4 separate regions of the Homo sapiens genome follow, and all the other regions are linked to region 4. Evidence: fine-mapped expression QTL. A gene starts in region 4. Each other region holds a variant in brackets. All regions are shown on one strand. Distances are from middle to middle. Region 1 has its middle 68 kb from the start of CTSL. Region 2 overlaps LOC112267903 (a long non-coding RNA gene). Region 3 has its middle 77 kb from the start of CTSL. Region 4 holds the start of CTSL (cathepsin L).

Region 1 (8,105 bases), 67 kb before region 4:
TTGTTGAAAGCCAGGGGCTCAAAACTTGTGTTTTGGAATTTAAACTCTGAACGTTTGACTCTTTTACTTTCCATTTATCCTTTAATAATCCTAACAGTTCCCAAGATGAAGGCTACTTCTGGCTGAATCAAGGACAGGTTACCAATAAGAAAGTCAACAAGAAATGAACATTATTATTATCTTCATTCCTGTTACAATTAAGGGGCTAGGGAGAGGAGAGTGGGGAGTTAGTGCTGAATGGGTTAAGAGTTTCAGTTTTGGTTGAAGAGAAAGTTCTGGAGATGGAAGGTGGTGATGGTGGCACAGCAATGGGAATGAGCTTCATGCCACTGAATTGTACTCTCAAAAATGGTTAAAATGGTCAACTTTATGTTATGTCTATTTTACCACAATAAAAATATTAAGTTGGTTCCCAATAGGCAGGTGAGTAAGAAAAACTTGCCACCCCTTGGAGAGAGTACAAGAGGCTGGTGCGGTGGCTTATGCCTGTAATCCCAGCACTTTGGGAGGCCAGGGAGGGCAGATCACCTGAAGTTGGGAGTTCAAGACCAACCTGACCAACATGGAGAAACCCCATCTCTACTAAAATTTCAAAATTACCTGGGCGTGGTGGCGTGTGCCTGTAATCCCAGCTACTCGAGAGGCTGAGGCGGGAGAATCACTCGAACCCAGGAGGTGGAGGTTGCAGTGACCCAAGACCATGCCATTGCACTCCAGCCTGGGCAACAAGAGCGAAACTCCGTCTCAAAACAACAGCAACAACAACAACAACAACAACAAACAGAGTACAAGAACAAGTTGGGCCCACCAATAGTGTGAGCTTTCCCAAGAACAGTGGTGATAGCCTGGGAGACTGGTGAGCATAACAAGGGTGCATCCAGGTACCTGGTTCTAGCGTGTGAATGTGGCAAGCCAGCCTTGACTTCTGCCTTCCCAGAGTGTTCTAGAAGGTGAGCTCTGAGAAAGCAGGGGTGAGCTCTGGGTCTTGCATGCTGCAGCCAATTATCTGTCAGTCCTTGCAAACTTTGTAGGCTGCAGAGTGGTGCCTGGAGGGAGATCCTGCAGGGCCCAAATTTTAGCCGGCACTCAACTCTTCAAGCTGTGGGCCCTCAGGGCTGTGTCTGTCCACCCTATGCAAAGCCTCTGGATGGGTGATCCTGGGCACTAAGTCTTGATTATTCTAGGAATGCTGTCTGTCTCAGCCTTGATGGGATTTGTACCTAGATTATGCAGATCCCTCTGAGTTCATTGAACACTCCACCATGCAAATTGTAAGGCATCAGCCAAGAACAGCTACCTCTGTAACAGCAATGTAGAGAACTCATGGGGGAGGAGGATGGGGTGTGGGAAAGAAGGTCACCAGCCAGGAAGCATTACCCCATGGCTGAGTGCACGTGACCGATGAGTGAAAATGCCCTAACCCATCAAAGAGACTCTGACACTTTCTTTTCTATGTTTGTTAACCTTTATCCTTGCTAGTGCCTGAATAGAACTGGACATTAAAGTATGGCCATGGGAATTACAGCACAAGCCTAAGGAGAAATTGTAAACTTAAATTCTCCAGGCCTCATCAATCATCTGTCATTTCCTTTCATTTCCTGGTATTTCATTAGAAAGGAACTAATTAGCTCCTTTCTGTTTCACCCATGCTGCCCTTGAGCTCAGTTACTCCACCACAACTTCCCAGAACTACCACATTCCTTTATCTTTTTAAAACAAATTTGGATTAAATGCCACCCAAAAAAATCTAGTCTTTTTTATTCTTCAGGGAGCCACTCCTCCTCCCCATGGTTGTGAGGCGTCCTGGGGTCTTCTGAGCAGTCTGTCTTTTGCTGCCTTTGGTCACTTCAAGATGTCTGACCTGCCTCCCCACCCTCCATGCCAAGCCTGGCTGTGGAAATAATCCAGATCCTATGTGCTCTAAGCCCAGCCACCAAGGCATGAGTGCAAGCAGGCTACAGCCCTCGGCCTCCTGCAGAAACTCCTGCCCCTCTCGCAGTCTTGGGGACAACTATTCTCCTCTCTTCCTCCAACCGCACTAGGCCAGGAACAATTAATTTCTTGATAACATTGACCTCTCAGCTTATAGGGGAGGTTTTCAAATTGGCTCCTGCGTTTGGAGAATGTTTTACCGTCTTCAGAGCTTGACTTTCAGGACCATTGTGGACACAGAAGTCTATTTGGGAAGAATAGACTATTTGACCTATGGCTGAATATTGATTTTTTTATTTGCATGTCTGTTGTTAAAATCCTTGTCTTAAGTCAGAATTTTAAAAATCAGTTGATTTTTAAAATCCTTTGATCTCTTTCAGTGCATCATACATATCTGGGGGCACAAAAAGCAGAAACAACAGGGGAGAAAGCAATGAGGATGGGAGCTGGTTTGGCTAGGAAATCCCAAGGGCACAGGAACTTCTTAACCCTACATCGAACCACAGAAGAGAGCTCAGCAGAGGCAGCCTGTTGACATGGCTTCAGGTCATGTTTACAGCCTCGTGTCCCTATCTGTCCGTCTCTGTTCTAAGACCTCCCAGGTCTCAAGAGCTTATCACACGCCCTGTTACTTTCCTGTGTTTTCTGACAATTCTGCCTAAAATCTTCAGTGGTATGTCTTAAGGCAAGACCCAACAGTGGTGTTTCCATGAGATAGGGGCACTATTAGATTCCAAAACACCTTTAAGAAGAATAATAGTAGCTCTATTCTGGAGTTTTTTTTTGGTAACCACACTTATCTCTTTAATCTTCAAAATACCCACAGAGGTAGGCAGTTTAATTCCCCTTTTACAAGTGAGGAAATGTTGGCTCCATAAGTTTTAGAGACTTGCTCAAAGTTACATGCCTGTGAAGAATCTGAACCATAATTTATTCTCAGAACTATTTAATTCCAAAATCAGCAGTCTTAATTACTCTTTATTTGTTCATTTGATTATTGTCTGTCTCTGCCTGTCAACCATGGTGCTTATAACTTGCCTGACATCACATACATCCTAAATAAATATTTGTAGAATAAATGAATACTATCTCCCCTGAAAACCTAAGGACTGGAAGCATAATGGTGGCACTGCAAGCCACTGTTTTGTTTCGTAGTCCATTGAATTATCAGAGCCAGTGTCCTTGTGGCCCCTAAGGAGTCCAGACAAATCTGTGGCTCTCTGGTACAGGAGTGGAAATTCCTAGTTGCCCTGCAGAAACAATTCATGTTGAGACTTTTTAAGGACTTTATTCTTTTTCTGTTGTTTTTGTAAATATCTTGCACACTATATCAACCAGCTCAACTTATTACAAAGCTGAAAAATGTAAGTAAAGTATAAATCATAAGCAAACCCTTGTTCAGATAGAAGGAAAATTAAGTCTAGCCTCAAAAGATGTTTTCTTTCCCGTAATATCCATGTATTTAATACATATGGCCAGCATTGTTTCTTCTATCAGCAAACCACAGTCACATCTATAGGTGTCTGACTTTCATTGACTTCAAATGATTTCTGACTTTGTGGCACCCTCAGCATCTTGTCTCATCCCTCCTCTTCTCCTCTTAGATTCAGTCCCTTCTCTTGAGTTGGGAGGTTGTCTGGACAGTGTCTTTGCCATCTGCACTGCTCCTCTCCCCAGCCACCCACGTGCATTTGCCCTGCTGTCCTTCAGTGCATTTCCCCCAGGATGCTCTGGCCACACTGACCAGGTGTCTCCGTCTCTACCACTTCTCTTTCCCTGAATGCTGTCCTGTGTTTTCTGGAGCCTGTGAACTTCTTGTGAATGATAAATACCAAGAGCTTCTCAAAATGAGACCCCATGTTCTAAACAGAACCTGCAGTCAGGATTCCAGGGAAGGTCAGCGGGCTCCCACCCCCAGAAGCACTTTGCTGTGTAAAGCATTATGTATGGAACAGAGAGATCACCTGGGGCCTTGGAAAGACATTGAGGAAGGGGGCTACCGGGTTACCAAGTCTGAATTTCTGAAGATAGTTATACTAGGGATGAATTCAATGTAATTCATGAATTATTCATGACTCTCTAGACAGGTTAATGAATGTTTCTTTTAGCCCCTCAGGACTGGATCTCTGAATTGGTGGGGAGCTTCGTGAGAGAGGTCAGGGGGAGTTGGGAGGATACTGATGGAAGTGGGGAGGCCTGCGGTCACCCTGAACTTGCTTGTCTAAAAGTGATGAGAAGGCCTCACCCAAATGCAGGAGCCATGACCCTGACCCATCACTGCCCCACGTTATAGGAGACAGGACTTGACCATCCTCCACAGGTCAGAGCTATTGTCAATCAAGGTGACAGTGCAAGATGCGTTCCCACTCCTGACTCCACCCAATTGCTGTAAATAGAGCCCCTGAGTGCTGTTAGCTTATTTCGAAACGGGGAGACAGTTCAGCAAATGTTTCATCACACTTAACATTTGCTGAAAATACTAACACATTCCCCACTCAAAGATGAGTCACCGTAAGTAACTCAAGGGCACTAGTCCTGCTCTCCACATAAGGGAATATTGGTCCTGAGTAAATGGGACCATATTTAAAGGTAACAAAAGGGATAACATGGGAGATGATGGTGGGATTCGTATCCCAATGACTGCTTTGAGTATATTCTGGCTG[GC/C]CAGTGGGTTTCAGTTCCCTTATCTAGACAAAGAAATGCTCCTCATGACTGGCAAAAGCAGGAAAAGTTTTTATCATCAGCTCTATACCAAGGCTGCCGAGCCACTAGAGTGGTCTCTAGAAGACAATGTCATCAGCAATCACTGTTAGCAAGGAGCTTGCTTCTGTAGTGCTGTGTTGTTGCTAATAGTTTTTGTTACAGCAACTGCAATGTAGAAGACTTGATTCAGGGAAGGCAGAAACCGAAACTCGTGCCTTTGAGAAGGTTATGAGCAATGAAGACCGTTAACACCCACCCTCTGCAGGAGGAAGCTGGAAATGGCAAGAGGCACCGCCCATGGCTAGAGCCCCAGCACATGGGTCATGACTCATACTGTGCAGGTCAACTATGGGCCCTGCTTCCTCAGGCCTTGGTTGTGGATCACGCCCTTGATTCTTCCCTTTTAGATGCAGCCCAGTTGCTATGATGCTCCTTGAGTCAATGAGCTCTTTGGCTTGAGCAAGGAAATGGTCTGGCTTCACTTCCAAGAAGCTGACAAGCACCCAAAGGTCTTTTTTCTTTTCTTTTCTTTTCTTTTTTTTTTTTTTTGAGACAGAGTCTCACTCTGTTGCCCAGCCTGGAGTGCAATGGTGTGATCTTGGCTCACTGCAACCTCTGCCTCCTGGGTTCAAGCAATTCTCCTGCCTCAGCCTCCCGAGCAGCTGGTATTACAGGTGCCCACCACCGTACCAGCTAATTTTTGTATTTTTAGTAGAGATGGGGTTTCACCAGGTTGGCCAAGCTGGTCTCGAACTCCTGACCTCAGGTGATCCACCTACCTCAGCCTTCCAAAGTGCTGAGATTACAGGCGTGAGCCACTGTGCCCGGCCCGAAAGGCTTCTTTAGGCAGGTGACAGGACACGGGCGTATCCTGCAAGTGCTCCTAGCAAGCTCTGGGTTTTTGAGCCAGAGGCTTGGGGTTTTCCAGCTCTCAACCTAACATCCCCAAATGTTTGTGGTCCAATTCCTCCATGAAAAACAGGGTAAACACGCCACCCCTGCCAGTGGAGAATGGGTTCCTAAGAGCTGGGAGGCCCGAGTCAGATCTTGAGGCTCTTCACCAAGCAGATGCTGTTGAGCAAAGCAGCAACTTTCTCTCTCTCTCTCTCTCTCTGTCTTTATGTTTGGGAAGGAAGAGCCATCTCAATAGTTTTTCTCACAATTTCCTTTAAGGAAATTGTCTAGGACTCAGTGAAGCCTCAGACCTGTAGAAGATATGAACTGTTCCAAAGAACATATCTGGATTCTGCAATCTGAAAAGCTAGGACCAAGGCAAATGTAGGTACCAGTCGTCAGGAAGTGAGTACTGAGCATGTTAGGAAGAAATTTTTCAGAGGAGGGAAGCAAATAGTGAAGGAGACTCACCCCACTGTTATTCAGAATCATTTCAACTGCCCTCAACTTGTATCCTGTCAGATGGAGGAGGGTAGCCAACCTTACTCTTGAGGCTGAATCAGCCTTCTCTTTGGGCCTTAAAAATAACACTCATAAGAGAATGTTGTTTGTCCTCCCAGCCCTGCAGAGATTTGCATCCATGAGGGAAGCATGGCTCAGTTATAGGCAGACATCAGCACCGTGTGGTTCCCTGCTCTTCATCCACCTCAAGGGAGCATCAGGCACCACACATCTTTACATCTTTGTCTATTTGCTGAGACCCTGTGAGTGTAGCATCAGCAGGTTTTATAAGCCAACCAGTTTCTTCTCATTCCTCTTCACAGAATAAGAAAACTGGAGCTTAGAGAGGTCAAGAAGTTGTGCCCTGATTCTCACACTGGAAGGAAGCCCTGAGAACCTGCACCCATCCCCACCTGGCCTCCCTCACCTACTTGGGAATAAGCCCAGGAAACACAGGCTGATTCTGGGATGATGTTGGAGAGGCCCTACATCCTGCAGGCACTCCCTACTCCACGGTACCCAGTGAGTCAAAGGCTTCTAGAAAGACATTTAGTCACTCAAAGCTGCTGCAGATCCCAGTGTCCAGGGAGGAACTTTCACTCTGGAAAACAGGAGCTCATTTCCCTTTGAGGAAATCATTTCTTTAGGATATCATTTCCAGCCACCACCCAGGATCCTGAGCAGGTGCTGCAGCTCCCAAAGCACCACTGGCGTGAGAAGGTCAAACCTTACAAATACCATGTTATTGTTCCTGTGGAGGACTGCTTCTGCCAGAGAGAGTCCTATCAATACCTCCAATGAGGTGTGACCTTTTTACAAAATGACCTCAACATTCTTTACTGAATGATGACTGTGTGGCCTCTCTTATCTGTTTTTTAAATTCCTCCTGTCTATCTTAAATTTCACATCTTTTGACCAATACCTTCTTAACGACCCACTCACAAGTCCCATGCAAACACCATCCTACTCTCTACTTCTATGAGTTCAGCTTTTTTAGATTTCACATATAAGGTCGATCATGCACTATTTGTCTCTCTGTGCCTGACATGTTTCACTTAACACAATCTCCTCCAGGTCCATCCATTTCACGCAAATGACAGGATTTTCTTCTTTTTTAAGTCTTAATAGTATTCCATGGTGTATATACGTCACCTTTTCTTCATCCGTTCATCTGTTCATGAACACTAAAGTTGACTCTGTATCCTGGCTATTGTGAAGAGGGCTGCAGTGAACCTGGGAGTGAAGATAGCTCTTCCATGTACTGGTTTTCATTCCTTTGAAGATAGAACCCGTTCTGGGACCTCTGCATTATTCAGTAGTTCTATTTTTTGAGGAATCTCCACACTATTTTTCCATTATATGTGTAGTAATTTGCATTCCCTATATCCCTATTATTATAGGTCAAACACAAAATACAATGGGTTATATTTTAGGTCCTATTGAAACAGTCTCAAGACATGTATACCTAATTTGATAAGTTTGGGAGCATAATTCAATAATATAAGGAACTGTATCTTCGCTTTTAACATATATGCTTACCCACCACAATAACATTATAATTAATTTCACCAATTTGGTAACCTGGCTCATGGGAAGAAAGAAATAAGTGAGATTACCTGTGCATCAAATCCTTGAATAAATATTTTCTTAAATAACCAACACCTCTGGAAAGATTCTATCTTTGACCCCATAATAAAGGGGTATAAGATTAGCCCTACTGGCTGGGCACGGTGGCTCACGACTGTAATCCCAGCACTTTGGGAGGCCAAGGCAGGTGGATCACGAGGTCAGGAGATCGAGACCATCCTGGGCAACATGGTGAAACCCATCTCTACTAAAAATACAAAAATTAGCTGGGTGTGGTGGTGGGTGCCTGTAGTCCCAGCTACTTGGGAGGCTGAGGCAGGAGAATCACTTGAACCTGCGAGGCGGAGGTTGCAGTGAGCAGAGATCGCACCACTGCACTCCAGCCTGGGGGACAGAGCGAGACTCCGTCTCAAAAAAAATAGGTTAGCCCTACTACATGCAAATGTTTACATATCTCATTTAATCTTCACAACGATCCTGTGAGGAAA
Region 2 (8,105 bases), 110 kb before region 4:
TTTCCCTTGGCTGTGTTCCTGATTGTGCTGCTCAATCATCTTCATGTTCTCCCACACTGCTCTCCTCCATCCTTCTTCATTCTAAAGACAAACATGTAACTGATGCTCTTTATTTCTAATTAAAACCCAGCCTATGCTAACCAAGTGAATCTTCAGACAGAGATGTAAGAGTAACCATGGCAGGGGAAGGCTTGACACCTCTGGGAGATGTTCTCCAAGCTGAGACACAACAAGGGTGTATGCCCATATCGTGCTCATAATCGGTGCTATTAAGTTATTGCATTAGGTTATTGGTAAGAGCTGGCATCTAGAAGCTACTTTCTGGCCGTATGATCCCAATAGCAAGGTCCATCTCTCTGGGGTTCCCCTGGACAGTTTCAGATGCCACCAACCATGCCATATAATCTCTTGTGCTTTGCCTTCCACTTGGTCCATTGTTCATCTAAACTGTGGTCACGTGTTACAGCAGCTGAGGCAATAGGCAGCCAGGAAGAGTGAAGGGTTCATGTTTCAAAAATCTGGGAAGGGAAAAGAAATGAGGATCTGATTAGACTAATCCGAAAAAGTCATCTTACTGCCCCCTGAGAAACTAGGGCCACCATGATAGAATAAAAATATTTAAATTATTCTCCCATGCATTTACCTAAGGACTGTGGAAGAGGCCAAGGATCTGGTTGGAGAAAAACAAGGCAAGTGGAAGTATTGGATGGACTCACCAAAATGAAAAGCAGCCTGTCCAGAGCTGTAGGAGCTGAAACAGTTTTATGGGATGATAATTTAGGCTATGAAAAGGATAGGAAGGTACCTTATGGGCGAGAAGTTAAAGGCAACAACCAGGAAACTAGGAAACCGTTGGCCCAGGTTTTGTACCAATTGTGCTGAGGTCATCCAGGCAAAACCTCACTAATGAAGACATCTAATTTCAAGAAGGGACAAAGGGATCCCCAATAATTGGGAAGTCACTTCACACTTTGTTCTTGGCTAATGCATAGCAGAAGGTGAAGTATGTTTTCCAAACACCCCTTGTAACGGAAACAGTTCTTGAATGTCTTCCCAGGAGAAACTGGGAAGGAGAGCACCTATCTACCGCCGCTCCCGCAGTCCTGCAGTCCTGCAGGGGCCAGTCCTGCCAACACTCCAACTCCCCTCATAGAGCATAAACCCAATCAGGTGGCCGAACCGCCAGAAGCCAGAGTCCCCAGTGTCCGCGCCCACACAGGGGTAGGCAGCTTCCCAGGCTTTGGGCTGGGGACCCAGGCCAGGTCCCCTGCCTCTTGCTTCCACCCCCCGCTCATGCTCACTGTGGCCCCAGGAGGTGGGTGGTGGTGCAGGGAGCAAGCGGCGCCTCTGCCTGATTTGCCCGGGTCGAGCCTCCCTGTCCCACCCCACCAGCCCTGGGAATACTGCGGCCTGGCACTCCTGAAAATCCCTCACTCACCGAGCTGAAGGACTTGCTGGGTCCCTGGTGGCCCCTGTCCAATCTCAGCCCACTGGGGTCTCAGCTGCAGTAGCCACAGGTGGACAGGCACAGTGGGCAGGTGCCGAGTCCAGGAGTCTCCCGTCGCCTAAGGCCGCCCGAAAGCAGCTAATTGACTTCTTAAGGCTGGGCGGGACCTTCCGGCGGGCTGACTCCTAGCCTGTGGAGCGGCTCAGTCCACTTGCCTCAGTGGAACCGGGGGGAGGGGAGCTGGGGGCTACGAAGAGAAGGGTCGGAGGTCTCCCTGGAGGGTTCGGATCAACTAAGTACCTTATTTAATGCCCTGGGCCGGTGGTTCATGAAAAGAAGTTTACAGGAGCCCTGTGTGCATTTTCAGCCTAACCCTGCTTTTCCTTTAGGCCTAGAATTGTTTATTAAAATCTCCTGCAGGGCCGAGAGCCAGAGGACTCTAGCCCAGTGGTTCCTGTTTAGTCCACAGCAAAGAAGGGGCCGGTTGGAAGAACTCACAGCCCGCAGGCAGAAGCCTTATCTCCCAATTAAGGGTATAGAAGAATCTGGGCATGTTGCTGGTGGCTCATGCCTGTAATCCTAGCACTTTGGGAGGCTGAGGCAGGCAGATCACTTGAGCCCAGTAGTTCGAGACCAGCGTGGGCACCCTGGCGAAACCCCGTCTCTACTAAAAATACAAAAATTAGCCGAGTGCGGTGGCCTGCGCCTGTGGTCCCAGCTAGTCGGGAGGCTGAGGCACGAGCATCCCTTGAACCCGGAAGATCGAGGCTATAGTGAGCCGAGATCGCACCACTGCACTCCAGCCTGGGCGAGAGGAGACCCTGTCTCAAAAACAAAACAAAACAAAAAACAGCAAACAAAATACAACTGGTAGGAAAACGCACCCTCAAAACACATGATGAGATGGTCAAGACCAGACCCTAGGAGGGTGGGGACTGGCTGGGTGGGTATCCAGAGACCATGGGCGCTTCATAATGCATTGTTTCCAGTCTCCTCCACTCAGCGATTCTTCTTCCCCTGAAGTCTTGCATTAAGTAAGTGAATGAATCAATCATCAAGAGTTAATGAAGCTCTGACTTTGTACATATTGTCCTTTGCTTGGTACAGTTGGGGACTGCCTTAGAAACAATCTCCAGGTAACTTTTCCAACTGCTTTTGTGAGGCCCAGTTTTCCATTTTAAAATCTAAGATTAACTCAGTAATCTTGCTTTTACAGCAAGTGGGCATGGAGCCTGACGGATATATTTAAACTAAGTTATGGACAAGCTGCTTGGTGCATTAGATAGCACAGGAGATAACCTTGTGGGACATCCCACATTCGTAATATCCACCCCTAAGTCTATAATCAATAAATGCTTGTTTGGAGGCCATAGAAACTCTTCTCGAGATCTGACCTGTGTCTTCTGCCATCTACCTGATTTCTCCCCATAGAGTAGGAAAACACTGTGTAGGAGATACTGTGAATAGAAATATGAATATAGGCTGGGTGTGGTGGCTCACGTCTGTAATCCCAGCACTTTGGGAGGCCAAGGTGGGCGGATCACCTGAGTTCAGGAGTTTGAGACCAGCCTGGCCAACATGGCGAAACCCCGTCTCTACTAAAAATACAAAAATTAGCCAGGTGTGGTGGTGGGCGCCTGTAATCCCAGCTACTCAGGAGGCTGAGGTATGAGAATTGCTTGAACCCTGGGAGGTGGAAGTTGCAGTGAGTGAGATGGCACCATTGCACTCCAGCCTGGGCAACAGAGTGAGACTGTCTCAAAAAGAAAAAAAAAAAATTACAAAAATTAGCCAGGCACGGTGGTGGGCGCCTGTAATCCCAGCTACTCAGGAGGCTGAGGCAGGAACAACTGCTCAAACGTGGGAGGCAGAAGTTGCAGTGAACCAAGATCACACCACTGCACTCCAGCCTGGGCAACAAGATCAAAACTCCATCTCAAAACAAACAAACAAACAAA[T/ATAAAT]AAATAAACAAGAAGATGGATATGTTGATAGAAAAATAAAAGACATGAAATATACAACCTACAAAATAAAAATGATCAATAAACTCTAAAAAGTTTACCTCACTCATAAAAATAGAAATTAAAACAAAAAAGAGGTCTTTTTTCCACCAAACTGATGAAGTTGAAAAGACAATACTATCTTGTGTTTGCCAGAATAAATTAAAAAGAACCCTCTTATCACTGACGGTAAAAGTATAAATTTATGCAACCTTTCTGGAGGAAAACTTCAATATGTATAAAAAGATTTTTTACCCAGTAATTTAATTATTTGGAATTTCTGTTGAGAAAACAATCAGAGAATCATGTATTTATGACCTAGATTGTTAATCTCAGGTTGTTTTGTTTTTCAAAAAGTTAGGAGCCATCAAAAGGATAGTAAGGGAATATTATAAACAACTCTACACACATAAAATTGATAACTTAGATGAAATGGACTAACTTCTCAGAAAGCACAGTACTCTAACTCACCCAATATAAAATAGATAATTTGAAAGACTAGGTTCAGGGCTCAACTATTAGAAAATAGAATTCAAAAAAGAAATCTCCAGGCCCGGATGGTTTCACTAGAAAATTATACTAAATGTTCAAAGGTTATTCAATCTCTTCCAGAAAAGAGAAGAGGAAGGAACATTTTTCAATTCATTTTATAAAGTCAGCATTACTCTGATACAAAAACCAGACAATGATAGTAAAACTGACCCAATAATCTCATAGACTGTTCTTTCGGATAAACATAGAAACTGACCTTTCTGTTCTTAAAGCTTGAAGCTTACATTTGTTTTATATGAATTCCTTCCTCAGGAAAGGAACTTCAGACCTCTCAAAAAGAGTATTAGAGAACTGAAAGTCACCAGATCACCACATCCTGACAATGAGAAGCCTGGAGCCCTCATTCCTCATTATTGCTTCCTTTCCCCTCTCTAGTTCCTGTATTCTTGCACATTGTCACATTTCTTCTCTGTTATATAAACCTCTAGTTTTAGTCTGTCAGGGAGATGGATTTGAAACTGAGCTCCCCCATCTTCTCAGCTGCAGCACCCAATTAAAGCCTTCTTCCTTTGCAGTACTTATTGTCTTAGTGATTGGCTTTTTGTGTGGTAAGCAGCAAGGCCTAGACCAAACCCCTGGTGTTTTGGTAACAATAGTTCCAAAAAAACAAAAACAAAAGACTACTACAGACCGGCTGGGTGCGGTGGCTCACGCCTGTATTCCCAGCACTTTGGGAGGCCGAGGTGGGTGGATCACGAGGGCAGGAATTCAAGACCAGCCTGGCCAGTATGGTGAAACCCCATCTCTACTAAAAATACAAAAATTAGCCAGGCGTGGTGGTGAGTGCCTGTAATCCCAGCTACTTGGGAGGCTGAGGCAGGAGAATCGCTTGAACCCAGGAGGCGGAGGTTGCAGTGAGTCGAGACCGCACCACTGCACACCAGCCCGACAACAGAGCGAGACTCCATCTCAAAAAAAAAAAAAAAAAAAAGAATACCAAAGACCAAGATCCCTCATCAATAAATGAAAAAACCCTTAACAAAGTATTGAGAAGTAGAATTCAACAACACATAAGACAAATTATACACCATGACTGAGTGGGATTTATTCTGGTAATAGAAGGCTGGTCCGGTATTCAAAATCAGTCAGTGTAATCCACCATATCAACAGGCTAAAGAAGAAAAATCATATAATTATATCAATTGATGGAGAAAAACCACTTGAACAAATTCAAAACTCATTCATGACTTAAAAAAGAAACTCGCTGAAGTGGGAGGATCACTTGAGGCCAGAAGTTTGGGACCAGCCTGTGCAAAGTAAAAAGACCCTATCTAAAAAAAAAAAAAAAATTAGCCGGGTGCAGTGGCTCACATCTTAATCCCGGCACTTTGGGAGACCAAGGCGGGTGGATCACGAGATCAGAAGATTGAGACCATCCTGGCTAACACAGTGAAACCCCGTCTGTACTAAAAATACAAAAAATTAGCTGGGCATGGTGGCACACGCCTATCGTCCCAGCTACTTGGGAGGCTGAGGCAGGAGAATCACTTGAACCCAGGAGGCAGAGGTTGCAGTAAGCCGACATTGCGTGACTTCACTCCAGCCTGGGCAACAGAGCAAGACTCCATCCCCACCCCCCCCAAAAAAAAAATTAGCTGGAGAGGTGGGTGGTGGTGCATGTCTGTGGTCCCAGCTACTTGGGAGGCTGAGATGGGAGGATCGCTTGAGCCTAGGAGTTGGAGGCTGCAGCGAGCCATGATCACACCCCTGCACTCCAGGCAGAGCAACAGAGTAAGACCCTGTCTCTGAAAAAAAGAAAATCTTAGAAAACAAGAAATAGAGGAGGAGCTTACCTCAACCCTATCAAGTACATCTACAAAAATTTATAGCTAGCATTAGTATTTAATGGTGAAAGAGTGAATGCTTATCCTCTAAGATCAGGAGCAAAGCAAGGATGTCCTCCTTCACTACTGTTACTCAACATATGTAACCCTGGAAGTCATAGTCAGCACACTAAGGCAAAAAAAATAATGGAAGGGAAAAAGATTGGAAAGCAGGTAATAACATTGTCGTTCTTTGCAGATGTCATGATGATCTGTATAGGAAATCCCAAGGAATTTACAAACAAAAAACCAAAACACTCCCTAGAATGAGTGAGTTCAGCAAAGTCACAGGACACAAGATCAACATACAAAACCAACTGGATTTCTATATATTAGCAATAAACTAATTCATAATAGTAATTAAATTTAAAATATGTACTTTAATCACTTAAAAAATGAAATAGTATTATATAAATCTAAAAAACGTTTGTAGGATTCTTATGCTGAAAAGCACTACATGTATGCATGTATATATTTATGTGTGTGTATAAACTTGCATATATATGTATCTGTGTGTTTGTCTGTATTAATTAAATGCAATGATCATGGCCCAGATTGTGTTACATGGTGGGAAAACAGACATGAACAAGACGGAGTGGGTACCTCCCTTCAGGTTGCTTACAGTGTAGCTTGGAAGTCAGACACTAAACCCAAGAATGAAAATGTGTTGGGAGCTTCAAAGAAGTAGCCCTGGATGCTCATGGCATCAAGCACCTGGAATACCAAATCATGAGGTCAGAGCATAGGGGTGAGACCATTCAGATTTACAAGGCTTCTAACTCTACATCACCAGAATGTCCTCTAATTCTAGATATCTGGAGGAGAGAGGCTGATTGGGCCATTCTAGGTCAGGACTCTCTCTCCTACCCCATCAAGAGTGTGTGTGTGTGTGTGTGTGTGTGTGTGTGTGTGTGTGTCTGTGTGTTTGTGTGGTGGGAGGCGTGACTCAATATAAACGTAGCAGCTAAGAGTTCTAATTTTGGATAAGGGGGTGAGGAAGAACCATTTGCACTGGCTGGATGCACCAAAGGCTAGAAAAAAACTAGAAAGAGGACCAAGATTTAAAGAACCAGAGGAAGAGGAGCTGTGGGGAAGAGAAGCAAATGAGGAGCATCCACAGAGTCAGAGAGAAAGCAGAGTCAGGGCTTCCTGCTGTTGAGTGAGTTGTGCAGCTGTTCCAACTGCAGTAGATTGTTCATCTCAGGTTGTTTTTTTCTCAGAGTTCTCCCACTGAGCCATGAAGGTGACAGTGCTATGTGCCTCAGATAGCTGTTGAGTGTGCAGAGTGAGACGCTGCACCCTCCGCTCAGTGATCTGAGTTGTGACTATCATGGCTCAGGAGTGCAGCTTACGATTTTAGCATCTGGGAGTGCTTTTCTTGGCAGGCTGCAGACACATGCGTTTGGAAAATAGGAAGAAATCCAAAAATGGCCTTTGCCATAGCTCAGCTAGAATTGTCGGTAACGTGGCAACTCATTTTCTCTGGATAGATTTGTGGCAGCTTAAAATTCTAAGAACTGCACTTTCTTCAGTGGTTCAAGGAGATCTGAATCCCATGCCTCTGACAAAGGGTTCTCTCCTGAAACAATAACACACCGTGTTTCTCTCCTTTCTTCCACAGACCTCAGAGGACAAGCCTTCTGAAAGGGATGCCCTGCAGCCTGGCTGCAACATTGTGACCATAGTTTATACACTGTACAGTAGCACAACCCTGGTGGCTCTCTCCACAGGGCAAGGGGTGGACCTCTTCATGCTTGACTTGGTAGGTACAGAATATGGCAGCCTCTGGGCTTGGGGACTTGATGGGCCTCTGTGCTTTAATGCTAGTCCCCTGGGATAATTTCCTGGTCATTCCTAATACTTGTTTTTGGGGCCAGAGAGTCTGAAAACCTAGTTTTGGGAGCCAACGCCATCATCAGAAACCATGAAGGGCCTTTGTCCCAGTGAGGGAACCCGGGGTAGGGGTGTCCTGCAGAGTCAGTTGCATCAACTCAAGCCCTGTCCTTAAGGAGTTCATTTTTCAAAAATGCACTCGATCTCTTTGGTTTATGAGAACTCCATGATTTAAGAATCGTAATGCTGCGAATTTCCAGACAGAAGCATGAATGCTTTAGAGCAGCATCATCCCATAGAATGCTCTGTGAGTTTTGCTTTTAAATGCTGGATGCCTTGTTTATCACTTGTGAAATGCTTTGCCAAATACACTGAGGTCTTGTGAAAACTCAGATAATGTTGACCAATGACGACTTCAAAACCCCTTGTGTTCACTTAGATGAAAGGTCTGTATTT
Region 3 (8,105 bases), 76 kb before region 4:
ATAATGGGATGAATTGTTTGCCAAGCATTGCTAATCACAGTCTGTCTTCCTTGTGGGTGAACATAAATCCCCACACAAATAACTGCTTGGCACCTGGGCACACCCGGTACTGGAATTTGGTTTTTGAAAATGACAGCTGTCACAGCGGCTTCTTTGGAGAATGCATCGCTGAGGATTGTGGTGGGAGTTCAGGAGCAGACAGTGCCTGCGGAGGAAGCCAGGAAGGGGCTGACCTGCAGTTCTGACTCGGGTCACCTTGAGCAGGAGACAATGGGGCACGTGATGTGGGAGAGGGAAGGGGAAGAAGAGGTCATTCACCCTTCAGAGCATCTTAGGACCATTTTCTTCCTTTCCATGTCCTTTCTCTTGATATTTCTCGGTGTTTCTCACTGGATGCCTTTGGGGATTTGGGTGAGTAGGAACTCCTGTCCTTACAGGATATTTCTTGTCTGTGGCTGCCAAGCATCTAACATGCTAGCATCCCCTATAGCCCCATATTGTGAAAACCAAAACAATACCTACACACATTGTCTGATGCCCCCTGGGTTGCTGCCATACTCTGCAAGAGCCACTGTGGAGCTGGATCAGAGTAGATCTCACACAGTGGTGGGGAGAGGTCTGTATCCGGAAGAGCTGAAGGAGGTGGCCATGTTATTTGGTTTCCAAATGGGCCAAATGAGCAAAAGAAATACTTTCTGTGTTCCCGGCTCTCATCAGTTGACATTGCCTAGGAATGTGTTTTTAAACTACATTTGCTAGAGAATCAATGGGACTGGGCATCTGGAAAGAAAACCAAAGTCTTCTTGTTTCCCTGGACCAATGGAGGATGGGCAGGGGAGAGGGACTAGCTGTTTTCATTATTAGACAGTGCAGGGGGCTGCCCCATGGGAAATAGGACCTTGCAGACAGGGCATTCCAGGGGCCCAAGTGAGCTCCCCAAATGGGTGGGGCAGGACAGCATTGAAGGTGACTGAGGCCAAGGTTGGAGTTCCCGGGGAAAGAAAGAACATGGGCCAGGGGCTGATCTGTGTGGGATCTACTCTGAAAGTTCACAGGAAGTGAACTAGGGCAGTGGTGTGCAGGAGCCTCCAGTGATGTCCCTGAGAGCCGTGCATGTCTTCCCAACTCAGTGACATCACACGGGGTACTTGAAATCAGCCAGGGTGGGAGCATTTACACCACAAGAATCAGCAAATGCTACAGATCGATGCCTGCCTGCCCACCAGAGGTAGCTGACCAGTTCACCATTGTTTTAGGGGTCTCTAATAGCCCCCACACCTCCACCCTGGCTGTAGGTACCACCTTATTGCAGAAGGAGGTTGCACCTTCTACTCCTCTGTGCTCACTGCTACCAATAAAACAAAGCCCAGTGCAGCTGAGGCAGGATAGGTAGTCAAGGAAATGGCCATGTTTTTGGGATGCAGCAACCACAGTTACCAGTGACCGTACAGCCAACACAGTAAGTCTTAGCATTTGCATTGTAATTGAGCTCACACAAGCAACGCTATCTTCAGTGGGGAGTTTCCCTTCTAGACAGCATGCACATTTTGATTTTACCTCTCCTCAAAATGACCCTTTGCTCATAATTGTAAAAAACATGGCCAGGCGCGGTGGCTTACACCTGAAATCCTGGCACTTTGGGAGGCCAAGGCGAGTGGATTGCCTGAGCTCAGAAGTTCAAGACCAGCTCGAGCAACATGGTGAAACCCTGTCTCTACTAAAACGACAAAAAATTAGCCGGGTGTGGTGGCGTGCACCTGTAATCCCAGCTACTCAGGAAGTTGAGACAGGGGAATTGCTTGAACCCCAGAGGCAGAGGTTGCAGTGAGCCAGAATTGTGCCACTGCACTCCAGCCTGGGTGACAGAGCAAGACTCCATCTCCAAAAAAAAAAAAAAAGAAAAAAGAAAAAAACCACCACTGGGTAGAGATTTAAGATGTTAATGAGACATGGGACATATGAACCAGCATGTACAGTTACTACACATGTGCACCCAGAAGACCACCCAGAACATGCTTATTAGCAAAACCTCTTCCCACCTCCCTATTAATAATCATGTAAGACTCCCATAAAGGGGGTTTCTCCAACAACGATCAATGCTGTCTCACCCTCTCACCCTAAGGAGCAGCCGCCCCGAACTCCCTCTCTCTAAGGGTGTACTGTCTCTTCTGCACCTAACTTTCAAAATATTCTTTCTCCTTTGCAATAAAATCACTCTATGCTTCATCTCCTTTGCTGTGTGCCTTTTGTTTAAATTCTTTTAAACCAAGAAGACAAGAACCGAGGTGTCACATCGGCCATCAACACAGCTATCCATATCTGCCTGAGGATGCTGGTGTTGCTTAGCCAAACCCAGTTCTCCTTCTAAAAGAAAGGAGGGACTCCTTCTATGACAGGTAGTGATGGGGGATGCATCTTGATTTTATATCAGCATCCATTTTACTACAGTCGCTGCAAGTCCCATTCTTATCGGATTTTAAAATAAGAGTTTCAGGAGTTGGCATATTTTTATTCTGTTTGATTCTCCTTCTAATCAGATTTTCCATGAGCTGATATTAAAAGTAGTGTGCCTTTACTTCATCAGATAGTGAAGAAAGGTGCCCAGGAATATTTTGAAAAGTGAAAAAAAAAAGGGGGAGTTTGCCCAGAATGAAAAATTCACCACCTGCAAGCTGCATTTGCATAATTAAGAGTTGCTGCTCCATCCATGGGCTCTCACTACACCCTGCCACGTGGGCGGGGCCACATTGCCTCTCAGCGCTCTTATCTGGCCTTCCCAGACCGTGGATGGTCTCCTCATTAGCTTGCAGATGTTTAGTCCTCTTTTCTGATGAGAAAAATGAAAATAAATTGCCACAGTTGGTGCTGGAATAAAGGAAACTAGAAACTAGGAGATCCACCAGGGCTTCAAAGAGCAATGCTGTTACCAAATAACACTGATTCACTCATGCACTGAAAAGATATTCCCAGTGTCTACTGCATGCCAAGAGCTGTTCTGGGCACTGCAGAGACCACGGTGAACAAAATCGGCAGAACCCAGCCAGGAAACAGATCAGAAAAATGCCAGATAGCATAAGTTGAATCAATGGGTGATAAATAACAGCCTACAACTCACCACCTGCTTCTGTAAATAAAGTTTTATTGAGACACGGCCACACGCTCTTGTCTACGGCTGGTGTTCATACATGGCAGAGTTGAGTTGCCACAGAGACCATCTGGCCCTCTACAGAAAGGGTTGCTGCCTCCTGGGGTAGGTGCCATGCAGGGAATTGAAACAGGATGAAGTGAGATGAGAGGATGGTGGAGTCTACTTTCACCTGGCTGATGAGGACCTCTCTGATGTGACACTGAAACCAAGACCTGAAGGGCAAGAAGAAGGAAGCAGCCCGAGGAAGGGCTGGAGGAAGACAGAGGAATAGGGAGTGCAAGGGGCCAGGTAGTGAAGGGTTGGAGGAGCTCAAGCATAAAACAACAAAGAAGGAGGGTAACTGGGCTAGGGCCAGAGGATGGGCCTGGAGGTGCAGGCAGAGAACGATGCGCGAGCGATGTGACCCCGACGACGTGACCCCGACGACGTGACCCGAGAGGTGGCACGGCTTTATAGACCTTACC[T/C]GGGGGGTGAGGAGACTGGGTTTGGGCCAAGTGTGTTAAGCTGGCTGGTGCGAGATCTGCCTTAGGTTTAGGAATTCCCCCAGCTGCTCAGACTGGAGCCTCGGGGTCAGGAGGTGGAGCAGAGGGACCTGATAGGAGATGATCTTGGCAACCAGGGGAGATGTGACGGTGCTTGGACTGGGGCTGTCCAGGCTCTATTACTTAGTGAGCCTTGGGCAAGAATACATGTGGGACCCTCCATAGGAGCCAGGCCCAGTGGGAAGGACCTAGGGAGTCCTGTAGCTGGTGCTCACCCGGGTTCCAGACGCTGTCCACAGAGCCTGTCATTTGACTGCCAGGATCTGTGCGGTCCTCTCATGAGCCCATTTCAGAGGAAAGTAACCCAAGGCTCAGAAGTTCGAGGTGGGTCTTCCCAGGCGAGAGGAACACAGCAGATGGGGGCCTCCCCTACAAGCTGCAGTGCTCTGTTGAGTATGAGGAGGGGAGGGGGGACATTGACTGTCATTTAAAAATCAGGAGATCACACCTAAAAATGTGGATATTTGGCTTCTTGTGGGAAGCCTGTTCCACACTGGATGCACCTTCCTCCGTGGTGCTGGGTAGCGGGGAGGCGGCAGCTGCTCCACTTAGAGGGACACAGGCTCTGATTTCATGATGTTCTCCACCTGCACTCCAACTCCAAGAGTCAAGAGTCCCTTGGAACAGGAGAGAGACCTCAGAAGCAGGTCCTGCCCCTGGTGTGAAATTCTGCTCTGTGATGACATTCCCAACCAGGGGAGAAGGACAGTACCCTGCGCAGAAATGCATTGGAGTGTGTGGGCCCTGGTAAGGTCATGCCTAGTCAATGTCAGAGGCAACATTCAGTCTCAGAGCTCTCTAGCAAAGCCATGCAGCCTCTGGGAGGACCTGGCAAGAACAAGAGATGTGTGCAACCCCATGGAGGCCCCCATTGCTTAATGCCCAGGTGGTCCATTGGCTCCAGAGGGGTAGGCAGAGTGTTATCCAGTACCTGGAAATAAGGAGCTTCACCTACAGTTAAACCAGCATCTGCCTGAGGCTGTAAAGAGGCAGGAGGCCGTGCACACAGGCCCCATAGCACCTTTTCCTCCTGCCCGGTGTGGGGAAAACTTGACCTGGGGTGTGCACCTGCAGCCTTGAGTCTGAGGGAGCCCTGGATAGAAGGCACAGCTCAGCAGCTGGACCCAGAGGTGGATGGGAAGATGCCACCAGAGAAGATGCCACTAGCCCTGGGCCAGGCAAGTCAACAGTCACTTGATGCTCTTAGAGCCTGTGCATCAGCACCAGACCACACCCCACAGGCAGGGGACTCCTGTTCAAGTGGCATGAGACCAGCTGGGGTGCTGCACAGAGCACGCCATGGTTGCTGGATGAAGTAGTCCTGGGAAGATGTAAAGCTTCACCCTTCAGAAATATTTGAGAGCAAGGAACATACTGAAACATTGAAAGAAAACATTCCCTACATCTGTATCTCAGCATCAACTATGACTTTCTGTCTCTAATGAATAGACAGAATCAGAGTCCATGTGCATTTTGTTCTCTGGAAAGTTGGTGTCCCCTGAGCTCCCCGGAGCAGAACTGGCTGTGGCAGCAGAGAGAGGAGAAGCTTGTCCTGGGCCCCCAGATCCTGCCCTCGAATTACAAAAGTAATTCCAAAGTGACATTGTGGAATATTTAGAAAATTCAGAGAAGTAGAAAAACCGTCACTAACAAAATTATTGAAGGACATAAAATAGTAGATGAAAAAAATGGAAGGAGATTGCTATCCCTGATAGCAAGATAGGACTGGATGTTTCAATTTCTCTGAGTTATATAAATTTAATAGAGTTCCAGTTAGCATCTGAATGGGACTAAGGAGATTGAGTTTCCTATCTTATAACTTTAATAGAAGAATAAATAAAACATTATAAAGGCTCTATAATCAATATGATTAAATAAGTTATAGGAACAGCCTAGAGAGTATAGAAGTCAATCATAATATCTACAGAAATGTTATAGAAAGCAAAATATGTTATTTCAATTTAATGGGGAAAATGTTTGTTTGATAAGCGATCTTGACACAGCTGGCTATTTGCCTAAAGGTAAACAACGTTGAACTCCCGCTCACTACAGAGCATAAAGATAAATGGATTAGAGCTTTTCACCGTGAAATGATACAACAATCTCTTGAATGGAAATTTGGGAAAACTTGTTTTTAAAATGACTTGGAAGTTTAGAAACCTTTTAAAACCCTAGATATGTTTAAAGAAAATGTACATATTTGACACACTTTTAAAAAAAGACTTTCTGGCAAATATATTCCACAAAGTTACAAAGTGAAATAGACCTGGAAAAAAATATTCTCAATGCATTTCACAGCTAGAGGGTTACTACTACCCATAATATTCAAAAAGCTCTCCAAAATTAGTAAGAAAAGGGCAGACATCCCAGTGGAAAGTGGTAACGCGTTCTCAGAAGGTTCCTACTGCCCAAGCCTGAGTGTCAGCTCTGGGCCCCTCTGCTGTCCAGCAGGGGCCACCTCCTGTTATGGGCCCCCCTTCCAAAACCCTGCACTCCCGACAGCAGGCGCTGGATCCAGACATGCTTTTGGAATTCTCGGGAAACACAAAGGGAGTAGTCCGGCGAGGCCTGGGAGGAATCTGTCACAGAAACCAGGGGCGGTGATCTAGGAACTAACAGTGGTCTGTCTGTGAGGGCCCCTGCACTTCCCCACCAGGTCTGGATTGGGGCTGCATTCCTGAGGCAGGAGGGAGTGTCCCTGGAGATTTTTGAGCTGGGCTGTGGCATGATCTGCTGCTTCTCAGATACCCCCCACCCAACCCCTAAACTCCTGAGCTCAGGCAGGTGGAGCCCACCACGTCAACTGCACTCACCCCTGAGAATCCTGTTTTGGGAATAGGGAGTGGAATTTAGTTGATATAAAAGGATTTGAGAGGGGAGTGTGGAATTAACGGCGCAGTGCAGGGCATGGCATGTGTGGTTTCTAATCAGGAGGTGCGTCAATTATATGAATCTGTAACATAGGCTGATTTATTTAACCAACTTAAAAGGTTAGAAAATCATTTCAAGCTAATTACCAAGAATTGGTCTAATTTGAAACAATATTTCAACAACAGTCCCCATGAATGCTAATTTACTGGTCAAAACCCACTCTGACATTGATGATGATACTCATGCTCTTTTCCTCTTTTTGTTCATAAAGTGGTCATTACATGAGTGAAACAGTCACAGGAGGGAGAGACAGCGAGGGAAGAAAGGAGGGAGGGAGGAAGAAGTGAGGGAGTGAAACATTAGGAGTTGGTGAACATTAGTTGATTGAGTGACTGAGTCCACAATTCCAAAAACATTCTTGGAAGACTCAAAATCTGTTTAATAGATTTCCAGTAGAACTGAAGAGCCTCTATAAAACCTTATATTTGATAAATTGATTCCACTTGATGGTAACTAAAATAATAACTGTCCCAGTACTCAAGCATAAACGTGCTTATTTGTTCACCAAATCACCTGCAAGGCACCTGAATGAAAGATGTCCTCTCCACCGCAGCTCCGCTCAGGGCACCCACAGCTGCAGGTGAGTTAACCTGTCCTGCCCTGCTTCTTCTAGGTCTGCCCTCCCATGACTCACCTGTGTGAGAAAATCATCTCCATGCTGCCTTCCTGGTGGAACCTCAATGGACCCAACCAGCTGATGTCACTGCAGCAGTTTGTGTGCGAAGTGCAGGACCAGCTGAACCCTCTGGTCATCCAGGGGTACCCCAGGTGCATTGCTCAGCAGCTCCACAGTGCAGGCGAGGTGAGCCCCTAGTAGTCCAGGCAGGAGGCTGTGAGGAGCACCAGGAACTCACATCTGTCCCAAATTCCAGTTCTTGGAGGTGGTATGAGCCTTGGGAGGCAGTGTGGAAATGGGCCAACTACTGATAATATTTCCAGACATGTGACAATCACGTACAGCCTCAAGTGACGCTCTGAACTGCAGTTCTCGGCTCACCTTAGAAGCTGTCATTTTGTCTTGTGTGTTGCTTTTGTTTCCAGTGCCTGATAGTTTTGGAGTGCAGTGCCCGCTGCCCTGGGTGACTGGGTCCCTCTTCGCTCCCCCTGGGCACCTGGTACTAACCTGCTATTACTGGCAGCCTTCAGGATGGCTGCTTTCCATGCGGTGTGGAGTTACCAGCTCCAAACAGGCCTCCTGGGTGCAAAAACCATTGAGAAAAGGCAGTAAGGTGTTCTCATGGAGACAATGTTTGGGGGACCTAAGGCAGAGAATGTGTGCGCAGACACAGAGGGTAATCATAATTCAAGGAACACATTCAACCCCCCAGCAAGTGATTCCTGGAAGAAATGACCCAAAATAGGAGGCTTTGCTCCAGTTGTGTGACATTCAACACTGGGGTGCGGTTTAAAAACCCAGCCATAGAGCAAAAATGCAAAACCAGTTATCTTGTAGAATGTTCCTACTTGTGGATTTATCTGTCTTT
Region 4 (8,105 bases):
AGCTCACACAGTGGGGTAGCTGGCTGCTGAGGCAATTCCACAATGGTTTCTCCGGTCTTTGGCCATCTTTACGTAGCCACCCATGCCCCATTCTTCACCCCAGCTGAAAAAAGAGCAGGTTTTCCATTTCAGAGAAAGAATAAAGCCCAAAGGGTTATTAACAGGAACACCCAACTTAAACACTGTGCCAGAGGCCATAGACTTAACAGAAAGAATCAGGACAGGCAATGTTCCTGTTTATCCTTAAAAAATTCTTGACATAACCTGGACATAATTTCCATCCCAGCCTCCAAACTGTGACCTTTCACAGAACTACAGATCAGAGACAGGAAAACAATAGGATGTCTTTGCAGCCAGATATGCCTCAGAATTTAAAAACTGTTCAGATTTAGATACACCTTTATACAATGGAACAAATACTATATTCATACTCCCAAGATATTTGTGACAGTTTCTTACTTTTATAATCAAACATTAATATTATATGTTCAACTTAGACTTCTGGGGATTTCAGAAGTATGCCTAAGGGCATGTGGAACTGTATCCAAACACTGTTTGCAAATAAGTATTCTCTTTTGAATTTCAAATGTAAGTATTTCTGGCAATTTATACCTGTTCTTCACCAGCCAATATTTATTGTTATCTGATTCTGTGCTTTCAAATCCGTAGCCAACCACCAGCACACCATGATCCATGTCTTCACTGCTACAGTCTGGCTCAAAATAAATGCCTGGGATGGTAAAATGAGGGCTGGGGTGAGAAGCTCCAGAGGACACATGACAGTAACCCATCCTGTCACCCACAGGGAATGAGGCATCTCTGAATTCAGTGAAGTGACACACATTCCAGATAGTACTTAACAACAATAAGAAGGCCAGGGATTTAAGCTCTCATTTACAACTAGCAGAAATAGAAATCAGCATAAATCCTTCATTAAAAAAAAGCTTTCCTAGAGGAAAAAAAGACCCCTCTTTGTAAGCTTGTAATTCTACTCTAGGATATCAATCTAAAAAAATAGCACAGAACACTAAAATCCTTGAATCAAAAGGCTCTTTTCGGATTTAATAATAGAAGTAAAAATCTTTGGAAAAATTATAAAAATCCAACAATTGCAGAATATTTTAAGTATATTAAACTACACAGTAAATATAGCTATTTATAAAAAGTTATGAAGTACTTATATTCATGGAGATATACGCAACATAATGTCAAATGGAAACATCAGGTATAAATATTGCATGTACAGAATGAACAACTATGATGCTAAGCACCTAAATATCTACACTGAACTTTACTTGCAAACCAGAGTCTATCATGCTCGTATGTCATGATACTCTTTTTCTGCATCAATTTCTACAAAGAAAAATATGCTTACCTTCTTTATAGAACAGGAAGGACTCATGACCTGCATCAATAGCAACAGAAATGGGCCCCACAGTTGCAACTGCCTTCATCAGGGCCTTCTCCTGCTTAGGGATGTCCACAAAGCCGGTGTCATTAGCAACAGAATACTTGGGATTGTACTTACAGGATTCTTCCTTTCAAAGGTAAAGGGAAAAAAAAGACTTGATTACTGCTGTCCTCCTCCTGGAGAACATGAGTTAGAACCACAACACTCAGCAGTGTGCAGCTTAGTATTTCCAAGTCACCACTGTTATAAATCATCCCAGGAAGTGAAATGCTATTAGTTAATCTGAAACTGAAAATTGACTCCAGTCTCTTCAATGAGACCTCTGGGTTTACTTCCATAAGACATTTTTCACAATAGAGAAATGTGTATATTTAGAATGGCTTGTATATTCTTCACGTTACATAGAAGCAAGAACAGCTATATGTTACCCATCTAATCACAGGATTGTGCAAAGGCTAATAATTTATAATGACAGTACTGACAATTTGCAGATATATATTCTGCCATCTAATATGTGAACTTTTTTTTTTTTTTGGAGACAGGGTCTCATTCTGTCACTCAGACTGGAGAGTGCATTTGCACAACCACCTCCCACACTCAAGCAATCGCCCTACCTCAGCATAGCTGGGACCACAGACGCACACCACCACAGCCGGCTAATTTTCGTTGTATTTTTGATAGAGTCAAGGTTTCACCTTGTTGCCCAGGCTGGTCTCAAACTCCTGAGCTTAAGCCATCTGCCTGGCTCAGCCTCCTAAAGGGCTGGGATTACAGGCGTGAGCCACCCCACCCAGCCCTAATATATGAATTCCGAAAAAGGTATCTGTTATCTCTTAAAGTGTCCACCTTCCAAAAGCTGAGCTGGAATGATGACAAGGAGCTCCACTTACTGTTGCCTCATATGGATAGGATTCCTCAGAGTCCAGGCCTCCATTATCCTGAACATACTGGAAAGCATAATCCATTAGGCCACCATTGCAGCCTTCATTGCCTTGAGGCCCAGAGCAGTCTACCAGATTCTGCTCACTCAGTGAGATAAGCCTCCCAGTTTTCCGGAACATCTGTCCTTCAAGAGCACCAGTAGCACTAAAAGCCCAACAAGAACCACACTGACCCTGAAAAGGGAATTAAAAAAAGCTGTCATCCACAAAAAAAAAATAATAAGACTTTGACAACAGCTCACACATCTGAATACTGTTAAAAAGTGAACTGTACATCACTTTAAAGTCTACCAAAACAAAGATGTCAATCACTTCTTGGCTTTCCTGGGAAGATGGGAGGTCTGAACCTGACACTGTCTCACCTGATTCTTCACAGGAGTCACGTAGCCTTTCTCTCTCCAATCCACAGATCTGGGGGCCTCATAAAACAGAGGTTCCTGGAACACTTTCCCCTTCCTGGGCTTACGGTTTTGAAAGCCATTCATCACCTGCCTGAATTCTTCACTGGTCTTCAAGGAAAAGGAAATAAAATGTTGAAAAGCAAGAGATTACCTTAGTAAAGAACCGAAGAGAGGAAGCACAGAGCTCGGCAGTCCACAGCACACTTACCATGTCTCCAAAGGCGTTCATGGCCATTGTGAAGCTGTGTTTCCCTTCCCTGTATTCCTGATTGTGCAGTTCAATCATCTTCATGTTCTTCTCCCACACTGCTCTCCTCCATCCTTCTTCATTCTAGAGGCAAACATGTAACTGATGCTCTTTACTTCTACCTAAAACCCAACTCATCCTCACCAAGTGAATCTGCAGACAGAGATGGAAGAGAAACCATGGCAAGGGAAGGCTTGACACCTCTGGGGATGCTGTTCTCCAAACTGAGACACAACAAGGATGAATGTCCACATTGTGCTCATAATCCACGCCATTAGGTTATTACATTAGGCTATTGGTAAAAGCTGGCCTCTAGAAGCTACTCTCTGACTAAAACTTCTCAACAGCCAGGACTATTCTTTCTGGGGAAGTTTCACTAACCATGCCGTATAATCTGTTGTGCATCGCCTTCCACTTGGTCCACTGTGCCTCTAAACTGTGATCAAATGTTAGAGTAGCTGAGGCAATTCCCAGGCAAAAGGCAGCAAGGATGAGTGTAGGATTCATGTTTTAAAACCTAGGAAGGGAACAAAAATGAGGATCTGATTAGACCAATCCTAAAAAGCCATCTTACTGCCCCCTGAAAAATTAGGGCCACCATGGTAGAATAAAAATATTTAAATTATTCTCCCAAGCATTTACCCAAGGACTGTGGAAGAGGCCAAGGATGTGCCTGGAGAAAAACAGGGCACGTGGAGGTACTGGATGGACTCACCAAAATGAAAAGCAGCCTGTCCAGAGCTGTAGGAGCTGAAACAGTTTATGCGATGACAATTTAGGTTATGAGAACGGTATGAAACTACCTTGTGTGTGAGAAGCTTAAGGCAACAACTAGGAAACCGGGAAACGGTTGATCCAGGTTTTGTACCAATCGCAAAAAATCCAGGTTTCGTGCCCAGGCAAAACCTCACTAATGATAAGGTGGGATTCCCAAGTAGGGACAAAGAGATCCCCAAGAGTTAGGAGGCCTTCACACATCTTCCTGACTAACAAACACCAAAAGCTGAGATAAGTTTTCCAATCTCTCCTATTTATTTATTTATTTATTTATTTATTTATTTATTTATTTTTTGAGATGGAGTCTTGCTCTGTGGCCCAGGCTGGAGTTCAACGGCGCGATATCGGCTCACAGCAACCTCTGCCTCCCGGGTTCAAGCCATTCTTCCTCAGCCTCTTGAATAGCTGGAACTACAGGCGTGCGCCGCCTCGCCCGTCTAATTTTGTATTTTCAGTAGAGACGGGGTTTCACCATGTTGGCCAGGCTGGTCTCGAACTACTGACCTCAGGTGATCCGCCCACCTCAGCCTCCCAAAGTGCTGGGATTACAGGAGTGAGCCACCGCGCCGCCCCAACCTCTCCTTAAATGAAACCTTTCTGAAATGCTTTCCCAGGAAAAACTGGGAAGGAGAGCACGCACTGCTCCCTCCTTCATTCACTTGGGCCTGTGCTGCCGACACCCCAAACTGCTCCCCTAAATCAGGGACGGGGTCATATGGCCGCACGCGGGAAGCCAGCGCCCTGCAGCCAGCTTCCAGGGCTCCAGGCGTGGCAGGGCCGGGGACATGACGCCTGCGCCACACACTGGCTGTAGCGGTCAGAGGATGTTTGCGGTGACGCCAGCAGGAGTACCGCTGTCTGGCGTGCGGGGACTGAGCTTCCCTGTCTGGCCGGGCCAGGCCCTGAGTCGGCGCGGCGCGGCCTGGCTGCGGTACCTGTGTCCACCCGGCTCGGAGGCTGGCCTGCCCGCTCAACCAGTCACGCGCCTCCGCGGGGTCCTCAACTGCCCTCCCCGGCTTCCCCACCTCAAGGCCAGCAGAGTTCGGGGTAGACGCTCTCGTTGCCAGGGCTGGTGCACACCTACTCGACCGCGTCCTCTCTTCCAGTCCCTGTCCGGCCACAGCTGGGCCTGGCCGGCGGCGCTTTCCTGCTGCGGTCGTAGCTGCGCAGGCGCACTCCACGGATGCCGCTCAAGGTTGCGGAGGTCGCGGTTCTGGCCCAGCTTCGCCTGACTCTGCTTCTAAAACCTCGGGTCTGGGTTCGGCCGGCACCGCCCCGCCGCCTGGCTGCGCTGCGATTGGCTGTGCCGGCAGCTGGGCGGGGACTCTGGGTGCTCTGATCCCTGGCGCGGTTCGTGGCTTGTTTACTGACTGTCCCAGAGCTGGGCGTGCCTGCCTCAGTGGACCTGGAGGAAGCAGAGCTGGTGCCCCGGGGCGGCGCAGAGTAGGGTCGGGCGTCTCCCTGGAGCGCTCGAGTCAACTAAGTACACGACTTACTGCACTGGGCGAGTGGCTCCTGAAAAGACGTTTACCGCAAGCCCTGTGTGGACTGTTTCAGCCTAACCTTGCTATTCCTTAGTCCTGGAATTTTTGGTCCGCAGAGCCGAGAGTCAAGTGTACTCTAGTCCAGTGGCTCCTGTTTAGTCCACAGCAAACGTGGGGCCGGGTGGACGAACGCAGAGCCCGCGGGCAGAAGCCTTATCTCCCACTTAAGGGTGGGTGCAGCTGGGCTTTAGAAGAATCTGGTAAGGAAAGGCATCCCCAAAACACGAGATGCTATCGTCAAGACCAGACCCTAGGAGGGAGGAGACTGGCTGCGTCTCCAGAGAGCGCGGGCGTTTTGTCAAGCATCCTTTCCAGACTCCTCCATTCAGGGATTCTTCCTTCTCCCACGTCTTACCCAAAACCAACAGAAATGAGTTATTTACAGAAACATTTGGTTGACAGGAGAAAAGCAGTTGAGAACATTAGAAGCTGCTTTTATTCGCCCACTCTCTAGGCTATGGATTATATCTTCCTTGGTAACCAAGTCGTTCTCTTGAGATTTAAGAAATTTAATGACATTTAATGTCAGGATTTAAGATACAGAGAATGGAGAAATGTTGTAGATAGAGGAAAAATATGTATCTTAATCTGTATAATGTAGATATTAATTTATGTAATTAAGGATTTAAGGAACAAAACCCACAAACATTCTAAACTTTTGTCATTTCATTTTTTATTACATAAAAACATTCATTGTAGAAAATACCTTTCGGGGAAAAAAATAATTACCTCTGCCTTTACCCCATAACCTTTTCGTATGCATATTTTGACTTTGTTAAAAATGAACAAAGTCCATTGATTTCTATTGAAGATTAAACTGATAACTCTTTTAGAAGCACAATCACCTATAGTTTTTTAAGTGGTAAAATATACCTCACATAGCAAGTACCATTTTAACCAACTTTGAGTTCAGTAGCATTAAGTACCTTCACATTGTGTAACCATTACTACTGTTTATTCCCAGAGCTTGTTTATCTTCCTAAACTGAAACTGTATCCATTGAATAATAGTTCCCCATTCCCCCTCTCCTAGCTCAGGTATCTACCATTATATTTCCTGTCTGCAGGAATTTGTTTACTATTTTGGAGATTATTCCTCTTTTTTTTTTTTTGAGACGGAGTCTGGCTCTGTTGTTCAGGCTGGAGTGCAGTGGCGCAATCGCAGCTCACTGCAATGTCTGCCTCCTGGGTTCAAGTGATTCCTCTGCCTCAGCCTCCAGAGGAGCTGGGACTACAGGCGCGCACCACCACGCCTGGCTAATTTTTGTATTTTTAGTAGAGATGGGGTTTCACCATATTGACCAGACTGGTCTTGAACTCCTGACCTCGTGATTCGCCTGCCTTGGCCTCCCAGAGTGCTGGAATTACAGGTGTGAGCCACCGTGCCCGGCCGATTATTCCTCTTTTTATGCATTGCTTCTCTGGAGAACCAGTCACAATGTGTAGAATACAATCTAACTGTGATATCTGTCCTAGTCTCTTTTCTGTTGCTAATAACAGAATACCTGGAACTGTGTAATTTATGAGAACAACATTTATTTCTTACAGTTTTCGAGGCTGGGAAGTCTGAGGTCCAGGAAGTGTATCTTGTGAGGGCCTTCTTGCTTGTGGGGATTCTTTGCAGAGGCCCAAGGTGGTGTAGGGCATCACAGGGCGAGAGGGCTGAGTGTCCTAGCTCAGGTCTCTTCCTCTTCTTTTAAAGCCATCAGTCCTGCCTGGGCGCAGTGGCCCACACCTGTAATCCCAGCACTTTGGGAGGCCGAGGCAGTCAGATCACTTGAGGTCAGGAGTTTGAGACCAGCTTGGCCAACAGGGTGAAATCCTGTCTCTACTAAAATACAAAAATTAGCCAGGCGTGGTGGTGCACACCTGTAATCCCAGGTACTTGGGAGGCTGAGGCGGGAGAATCACTTGAACCTGGGAGGTGGAGGTTGCAATGAGCCGAGCCGAGATCACGCCACTGCACTCCAACCTGGGTGACAGAGCGAGACTCCATCTCAAAAAAAAAAAAAAAAAAAAAAAAAGCCATCAGTCCCATTCCCAAGATAACCTGTTGGTCTATGAACCCATTATTCCATGAATAGATTAATGTATTCATTAGGGAAGAGCTCATATGTCCTAATCACCTCTTAAAGGCCCCACATTTTAATGCTGCCACATTGGAGATAAGTTCCAACAAGAGTTTTGGAGGGGGCAAACAAGGAAACCATAGCAGTATTTAAATTTATTATTTTATGAAATAAAAACAATATTTCTGTGGTGTTAGGTAACTGGAGTACCTACGTCTGCCTTGGTTCTAACTTTGCAGATTTCAGGATCACAAGAAGTTCATTGGAACAGCTGAATGTTTCTACCGGGGGCTTAGAGCTCACTTGGTCCTTCATGAGTTCCTTACTGGGGAGTGTGAGAGAAACTGCTCAGATGGCCTCCCCTTCCCCAAATTTGAAAGAGAAAGAGAGAGAGTTGTGAGTGAGTGGCTTTGCTCTCCAGCACTTGCTTAGTGAAGAGCCTCAGAATCTGGACTGTGGCCTCCCAGTTCTGAGGAACCCCATTCGCCACCAGGAGGGGTGGCATGTTCACCCCGTTATTCAGGAAGGAATTGGAAAACAAACAATCGAGGGTGTGAGGTCAAGAGCTAGAAAATCGCAAGCCTCTGGCACCTGAGCCAGGGCAGATGCTGGGAGCACCTGCAGGATACTCCCATATTCTGCCACCTTGGTACTTATCAGCCTCTGAGAACTGAAGCCGGACCCTTTCTTTGCTTGAGCAGAAGATCAGACCAAAG

Evidence for each region. PIP is the estimated chance that this variant, and not a neighbour inherited with it, causes the effect.
Region 1: its variant is fine-mapped to the expression of CTSL in whole blood (INTERVAL, PIP above 0.99).
Region 2: its variant is fine-mapped to the expression of CTSL in whole blood (INTERVAL, PIP above 0.99).
Region 3: its variant is fine-mapped to the expression of CTSL in whole blood (TOPMed, PIP 0.99).

Annotation. Positions count from the first base shown.
Region 1 is chr9:87,789,797-87,797,901 of GRCh38, reverse strand. No RefSeq gene overlaps it. Among named protein-coding and RNA genes, the nearest start is that of CTSL, 68 kb to the right of the region's middle. RefSeq lists enhancers at 4,194-4,488, 4,414-5,613 and a cis regulatory region at 4,656-5,165. The variant GC/C (reference allele first, on the strand shown) is at 4,596.
Region 2 is chr9:87,836,556-87,844,660 of GRCh38, reverse strand. It overlaps LOC112267903 (a long non-coding RNA gene), which reads left to right. Exons shown (of 6, transcript XR_930087.2): 6 at 1-144. It also overlaps the pseudogene FBP2P1. Among named protein-coding and RNA genes, the nearest start is that of SPATA31E1, 42 kb to the left of the region's middle. The variant T/ATAAAT (reference allele first, on the strand shown) is at 3,406.
Region 3 is chr9:87,798,825-87,806,929 of GRCh38, reverse strand. It overlaps the pseudogene LOC100420576. Among named protein-coding and RNA genes, the nearest start is that of CTSL, 77 kb to the right of the region's middle. RefSeq lists an enhancer at 6,199-6,699. The variant T/C (reference allele first, on the strand shown) is at 3,613.
Region 4 is chr9:87,723,006-87,731,110 of GRCh38, reverse strand. CTSL (cathepsin L) reads right to left here and starts at 4,992. Exons shown (of 8, transcript NM_001912.5): 1 at 4,713-4,992; 2 at 3,382-3,517; 3 at 2,962-3,084; 4 at 2,715-2,861; 5 at 2,302-2,526; 6 at 1,376-1,538; 7 at 613-730; 8 at 1-103. The coding sequence starts at 3,507. The coding sequence ends at 4. RefSeq lists a silencer at 1-3, promoters at 3,675-4,095, 3,675-4,714, 4,919-5,129, 4,968-5,149, 3,507-5,149 and 7 more, cis regulatory regions at 4,096-4,329, 4,330-4,475, 5,051-5,052, 5,075-5,078, 5,089-5,092 and 12 more and an enhancer at 4,680-5,201.